Homo sapiens: one gene and its partner. The protein of the gene in region 1 purifies or fractionates together with the protein of each later gene. This does not show direct contact. Each region holds a gene or a part of one and is shown on either strand. Other genes may lie near its edges.

What was found. Proteins that work in one complex are often made in the same cells at the same time.
Region 2: the proteins of DNAJC8 (region 1) and PIN4 fractionate together in Homo sapiens (co-fractionation; one large-scale study listed by BioGRID). This does not show direct contact.

Annotation. Positions count from the first base shown.
Region 1 is NC_000001.11:28,226,477-28,230,130, reverse strand, and holds part of DNAJC8 (dnaJ homolog subfamily C member 8), read left to right. Parts: intron 1-1,107; coding exon 1,108-1,209; intron 1,210-3,654. UniProt on the Homo sapiens protein: Suppresses polyglutamine (polyQ) aggregation of ATXN3 in neuronal cells.
Region 2 is NC_000023.11:72,184,746-72,188,399, forward strand, and holds part of PIN4 (peptidyl-prolyl cis-trans isomerase NIMA-interacting 4), read left to right. Parts: intron 1-1,715; coding exon 1,716-1,789; intron 1,790-3,654.

The DNA of each region.
Region 1 (3,654 bases):
GTCAGGGATTTTTCTTTTTTCTTTCTTTCTTTTTTTTAAATTAAAAATAGAGATGGGGTTTCGCCATGTTGCCCAGGCTTGTCTCAAACTCCTGAGCTCAAGCAATCCACCCACCTCAGCCTCCCAAAATGTTGGGATTACAGGTGACAGCTACTCCGCCTGGCCAAGTCAGGGATTTTTTCTAACACTATTAGAATTAGGTGGTGGAGTTGTTTGTTCCTTCCCATCAACAGTTTTAAATGCTGCTCATAGTTTATGTCTTACTGTGATTGTATTTTTCCTTTTTTTGCTCTTTAAATTTTTTTCTTTATTTTTTTTCCTCACAGAGAAATCTCTTACTTTTTTTTTTTCTTTTTTGAGACGGAGTCTCGCTGTGTCTCCCAGGCTGGAGTCCAGTGGCGCGATCTTGGCTCACTGCAACCTCTGTCCCTGGGGTTCAAGCGATTCTCCTGCCTCAGCCTCCCAAGTAGCTGGGACTACACGCCATGCCACCATGCCCAGCTAATTTTTTGTATTTTTAGTAGAGACGGGGTTTCACCATGTTGGCCAGGATGGACTCCATCTCCTGACCTCATGATCTGCCCACCCCCCAGCCTCCCAAAGTGTTGGGATTACAGGCGTGAGCCACTGTGCCCAGCCTATTTTTTTTTTCTTAAAATTAAAAGCTATAAATGAAGTATAATCACACACAAGCACATCTTCCATCATTAAAGTGGAAGTTCTTTAAAGGCTGTGACTTATTTATCTTTGAATCCTCTTGATGCCTGCTGTGGGGTCAAACTGTTGGGGTTAAAATTCTGGCTTACAAGTTGGGTAATTGGGAACAAGTCAGTTACCTTCTCTAAGCCTCAGTATTCTTATCTGTGAATTGGGTATAACAGCAGTATCTACCACATAGGGTTGTTGAGATTAATAAATACATGTAAGGTTTTTATATTAAAATTCAACAAATGGTAGTTTTAATTTCTCAAAGCATTTAGCAAAATGTCTTGCACATGGTAAACACACAAATAAATGTTTGTTGAACATATCAGTGAACATTTTGTTAAGATAATTCAGTTTGTTATTGAATTCTATTAATGAAGTTTTTAATCCTCATAATTTTAGGTGAAACAAATAGAGAAGAGAGACTCGGTTCTAACTTCGAAAAATCAGATTGAAAGACTGACCCGTCCTGGTTCCTCTTACTTCAATTTGAACCCATTTGAGGTGAGCCGATTGATGTTGCTAGGGCCTCTGTAATGGGGGAGATTTGCATAGCTGCAGGCATACCTACATCAGAATACATACCTAATTTATATCATAGTTAGGATTGAGAAAAATGGTGGAGTAAAGTGATGGAATCTGTATAGTACAAAATTGAGTATTCCTTATCCAAAATGCTTGGGACCAGAAGTTTTTTGGATTTTGGATTTTTTTGGGATTTTGGAATATATACATACATTCTGCTTACTTACTGGTTGAAGCATCCCAAATTAGAAAATTCAGAATGTTAATGAGCATTTTCTTTGAGCATCAGTTGACTCTCAGAAAGTTTCAGATTTTGGAGCATTTTGGATTTTGCATTTTTGGATTAGGGATATGTAACCTGTATATAGATTGTCTTTAAACTTGGGTGATTGTACCGAGCAGAACTGGAGAGACAGCATGTTAAGGAAAGTGAGATGGTCACATATCTTTCATCATCTTTTAGCAACCCAAATATATAAGGATTTAATTTCAGATGTGAAGGGGTGGCTAGCTCTAATAAGTTTAGGATTCTTTTTTTTTTTTTTTTTTTTTGAGACGGAGTCTTGCTCTGTCCCCCAGGCTGGAGTGCAGTGGCGCGATCTTGACCCACTGCAACCTCCTTCTCCCAGGTTCAAGCAATTCTCCTGCCTCAGCCTCCCGAGTAGGTGGGATTACAGGTGCCCACCACTGTGCCTGGCTAATATTTGTATTCTTAGTAGAGATGGGGTTTCACCATGTTGGCCAGGCTGGTCTCGAACTCCTGACCTTGTGATCCACCCGCCTCAGCCTCCCAAAGTGCTGGGATTACAGGCGTGAGCCACTGCGCCCAGCCTAGGATTCTTGATTTAAACTACTTGTTAAAACTTCTGTTTCACTATAATAAATGCCAAAAACCCAACAACAACAAAACAAAGATCACAAGATTTTAGATAAATGAATATACTTTTTGATTTTCTTAATTTTATAGCTTTAAACTTTTCCTGGTTATAAAAGTAAATCATATTTGTTGCAAATGTACAGAAAGCAAGAATAATCATATATAATCCCACCTAAGAGAAATAGCCACTCCTGTTTACACTCAAACTGTTTTGCTTAAAAACAGGGAGCATCATACACTTAATCCTTCTTCTTCTTCTTCTTCTTTTTCTTTTTTAAAGAGATGGGGCCTCATTATGTTGCCCAGGCTGGCTTAGAACTCGTGGGCTTAAGTGATCTCCTTGACCTGCTCAGCCTCTGGAGTAGATGGGATTACAGGCATATGACACCACACCTGGCTCAGCTCAATACGATTTTATTTTATTTTATTTTTTTGAGACAGGGTCTCACTGTCACCCAGGCTAGAGTGCAGTGGTGCAATCATGGCTTACTGCACCCTTGAACTCCTGGGTTCAAACGATTTGCCCACCTTGGGCTCCCATAGTGCTAGGATTACAGCCATTCGCCACCATGTCCAGCCTCAGTGCTGTTTTAAATGCTTTTTTTTTTTTTTTTTTGAGATGAAGTCTCACTCTGTCACCTAAGCTGGAGTGTAATGGTGCAATCTTGGCTCACTGCACCTCCGCCTCCCAGATTCAAGTGTTTCTCTTGCCTCAGCCTCCCGAGTAGCTGAGATTACAGGTGCCTGCCTCCATGCTTGGCTAATTTTTGTATTTTTAGTAGAGACGGGGTTTTGCCATATTGTTCAGGTTGGTCTCGAACTCCTGAGCTCAGGCGATCCACCTGTCGCGGCCTCCCAAAGTGCTAGGATTATAGGTGTGAGCCACCGCGCCTGTCCAAAAAAAAAAAAAAAAAAAAAAGAGAGAGAGAGAAATTCTTTTTTTTTTTTTGCAATGCTTGACAAGATGTTAAATCTGTTAACATCTTTAATCATAAATGAACTCTTCAGAACTCAGTACAGACTAACATTACACGGAAAGTGAAAATAAAAGGAACAGAGGAAAATGGAATAGTACAAATGAGTTATAAGGCTATATGAAGATGATATATAGTTAATACTAATAGTTGAGAAAGCAATTTTATTATAAATTACATTATTTGTGCTTACAAATATTGATATCTGATGTTGGTACAGCTTTAGAAAATGAAGAATTCTCAAATACTGAGGAAACTTACTCTAGTCATGAGGAGTTTACTCAAAAATGTAGATTTGTGCATAAATTTGGCCCCAGCAGTTCCAAACCACAGCAATCACTCCAACAAAGTAGTTGGGTACACACACATATACATACATGTTTACTACACAATAGATGTGTAAGTAATATGTCACCCCCCAAGAAACTTTTTATGAACTGGTTATAAAATAATAGACTGGGGGGTAAAAAAAATTCCATATAATTTATTTAATCATTTCTTTATTGTGGAATAGTTTAGCTAGTTTATTTCTTTCTAAAATTTTTTTTTTTGAGATGGAGTCTCTGTCGCCCA
Region 2 (3,654 bases), on another chromosome or scaffold:
TTTTCAGTTTAATCAAACATTTATTAAAACACCTTTTGTGTGCCAGGCATTGTGCTAGGCTTGGAGATACTAAGACAAGCAAGATGGAGACTCTTGCTTAAAACTTTTCAATGGCGGCCAGGCGCGGTGGCTCACGCCTGTAATCCCAGCACTTTGGGAGGCCGAGGCTCGCAGATCACGAGGTCAGGAGATCGAGACCATCCTGGCTAACAGGGTGAAACCCTGTCTCTACTAAAAATACAAAAAAAATTAGCGGGGCGTGGTGGCAGGCGCCTGTAGTCCCAGCTACTCGGGAGGCTGAGGCAGGAGAATGGCATGAACCCGGGAGGCGGAGCTTGCAGTGAGCCGAAATCGCGCCACTGCACTCCAGCCTGGGCGACAGACAGAGCGAGACTCCGTCTCAAAAAAAAAAAAAAAAAAACAACTTTTCAATGGCTCCCTATTACGTCTAGGATAAGTCCCAAGCTCCTTAATGGGGCCAAAAGGCCTCAATGCCCTGACCCTCAGCTACCTCCCTCAGGCAGGCTCATCTGAGTGCACTCCCACCTCAGATTTGGCTTCATCCATACAATTTCTTACACATACCATGTCGTTTCCCCCATTCTGGAGTGTCTCCTCATCCTTTCTTTGGCTAACCAGCTCCTACTCATCCAGGAAACCTTCCCTGGCTGGCTCCAGTGTCCCTCTGTGCTTCCACAGCCCCCTGTCCATAACCATCTCTGCATCTCCTGCATTCTCCTGAAATGATCCGTCTTCCTCACTAGAATATGAGTTTTCTGAAGGAAGGTACATGGCTTGTTCATCTTTGTACTCCCAGTGCCTGGAACTCAGTAGTTGTATAGGAAATGTTTATTGAACTGAGCCCTTAATTCAACTGTAATTCTTAGGAACATCAGCCTCTAGCAGTATGTAGGCTGCCATTGACACAGAAGTTACCATAGTAGTAAAATGACATACTAGTAAAATGTAAGATGCTGCTAATGGTTCTAGGAAGACATCAATAGGCAATGTAGTAGACTCTAGAAATTTGGACATGAATGTATTCTTTAGCCAAAAATGGGTAGTGGGAAATTTGATCTTTTTAAAAAATGTATTCTTAGAGATTTTACTTACTGGAATTGTGATGCTTGAACACATAGTTGTGGTACATGATAGAACTCTTACAAGAACTTAGGAGTCTGCCCTCAGAAGGCAGGGTGTTAAATTGGATGCAAAGAATCTGGGCCAGGCTTCCGGAGCTTTCATTCACCTATTAGCACACTCATTTGTGTATCCATTTTCTGTGAAGGGTTTATATAGGGCACAGATTTCCTGTTTGAAGAAAGATGGGTCAGATTAATTTAGCTTGATGTTGTAAAGCAAGCTTGTCCAACCCACGGCCCACGGGCTGCATACGGCCCAGGATGGCTTTGAATGCAGCCCAACACAAATTTGCAAACTTTCTTAAAACATTATGAGATTTTTATTTGTGATTTTTTTTTTTTTTAGCTTGTCAACTATCATTAGTGTTAGCGTATTTTGTGTGGCCCAAGATAATTCTTCCATTGTGGCCCAGGGAAGCTGAAAGGTTGGATACCCTTGTTGTAAAGTGTCTGGCCGAGTTCCCTTTTGAAGTGTGGCGTTATGATGGAAATATCCACTCCGGTTGTGTGTTGGACCTTTCTGTAAACATGGAGGTGCAGTTTAAATGAGTACCTGTCATCTCTTCTCTAAAGGGGGAGCAGCCTCTGGGAGTGACAGTGCTGACAAGAAGGCTCAAGGTCCCAAAGGTGGTGGCAATGCAGTAAAGGTGAGTTACTGGTTCCTTTTTTTCCATGTTAAATATAAATTCTGTTTATGTGTTAGTACACATAAAAGACAGAATGCTTAACTCATTCTAACAGGCTAGCCTAACACTGGTATAAAATCAAAATAACACAAAATTGTAGCTGGGCGCACCTGTAATCCCAGCACTTTGGGAGGCCAAGGCAGGCAGATCAGCCTGGCCAAAATGGTGAAACCCTGTCTCTACTAAAAATACAAAAATTTGCCTGGTGTGGTGGTGTACACTTGTAATCCTAGCTACTTGGGAGGCTGAGGCACGAGAATCAAGAATCGCTTGAACCAGGAGGCTGAGGTTGCAATGAGCTGAGATTGCACCACTGCACTCCAGCCTGGGCAACAGAGTAAGATTCCATCTCAAAAAAATAAATAAATAAAAATAAATTTTAAAAAAATGGAAAATATAGACCAGTCTTGCTTATGAAAAGTAATTCCCTTTAAATATTTTGTCATGTACTTTCTCAGATACCCAGAATTTCTTTATAGTTTTTTAGTATTGTTCCTTAAAATGCATTAAGTTAGATCTTCCCAGTAATTGAGTTATTTCTTAGGACAAAATAATATTTTATAAAACCAAGAGATTAGATAAGTGTTAAAAGTCCTCTGCTGAATAAACAGGCAAGGGTGCAGGTCTCTTTAGAAAGCTTCCCCACTGGTGAGCCACAAACCAGGGTCTTGACCATGAAAATGGGGGCAGGAGAAAATCAGCAAATAATTACTTGAAATACTTAACCTAGCCCCAGAGGAGTATCTGCTGGGAGAAAATTTAATCTGCAAACTAGTAAGTGCTATGTAACAAGGCAATTTCCATGTTTTAGTCAGGATATGGGAGGCTGTACTTTGATTCATTCATTCAGTAAGGACTTAGTGACATCTGCCCTGTGCCAAGCAATGTATTAGGCTCTGGGGATTTTTTATCATGTATTTATTTAATAAAAAAGTAAGAGATGGGCCAGGCACAATGGTTCATTCCTGTAATCCCAGCACTTTGGGAGGCCAAGGCACGAGGATCACTTGAGCCCAGGAGTTTGAGACCAGCCTGGGCAATATAGCAAGACCCTGTCACTAAAAAAGTAAAAATAAAAAATCAGCCAGACGTGGTGGTGCACAACTGTGGCCCTAGCTACTCAGGAGGCTGAGGTGGGAGGATCGCTTGAGCCCGAGAATTTGAGGCTACAGTGAGCCATGATTGTGCCACTACACTCATCCTATGCAACAGAGCGAGACCCTGTCTCAAAAAAATAAATAAAAAGTAAGAGATGGTCCTTGTTATCACAGGCTACTTGGGAGCAGTTAGGTAAAGATATGTATTTCATTGCTGTATGATAAGCATAGCAGTGGAACTGCATCATATAAATTCAGCCATACATGTGTAGCCTAAAAAAGAGAGATCATGTAAATGGTGTGGACTGTTCTGCCCACTCTTCTATTCAATGAACCTATGCCCCACAGAGAGAGAGAGAGATGAGAGACATGCACCTGCTTTTCTATAGTTGCCCTGAATTCTTGTGTGAGCATCCAATCATGTGAAGTGGGGTTCTGGTATCCAAAGATAAGTTTTCATAAAACATAGCCCCTAAATACAACCCAGTTACTTCATGTTACAAACGGAGTACAGCGTTCCTGGCTATGTCTGGGCTTAAATGAGAGCTGACATGCTGGTCTCCCATATGACATCTTCATAAAGGGATATTCTAGGGTAATTTTGGCTATATGCAGTTTTCACCTAATATGTTTTCACAAGCATCTAACCTAAGAGACTGTTGCACTGCATATGGCTTTAGCTACTTTTTTTTATTTTTTTTTTTGAGACGGAGTTTCACTCTTGTTGTC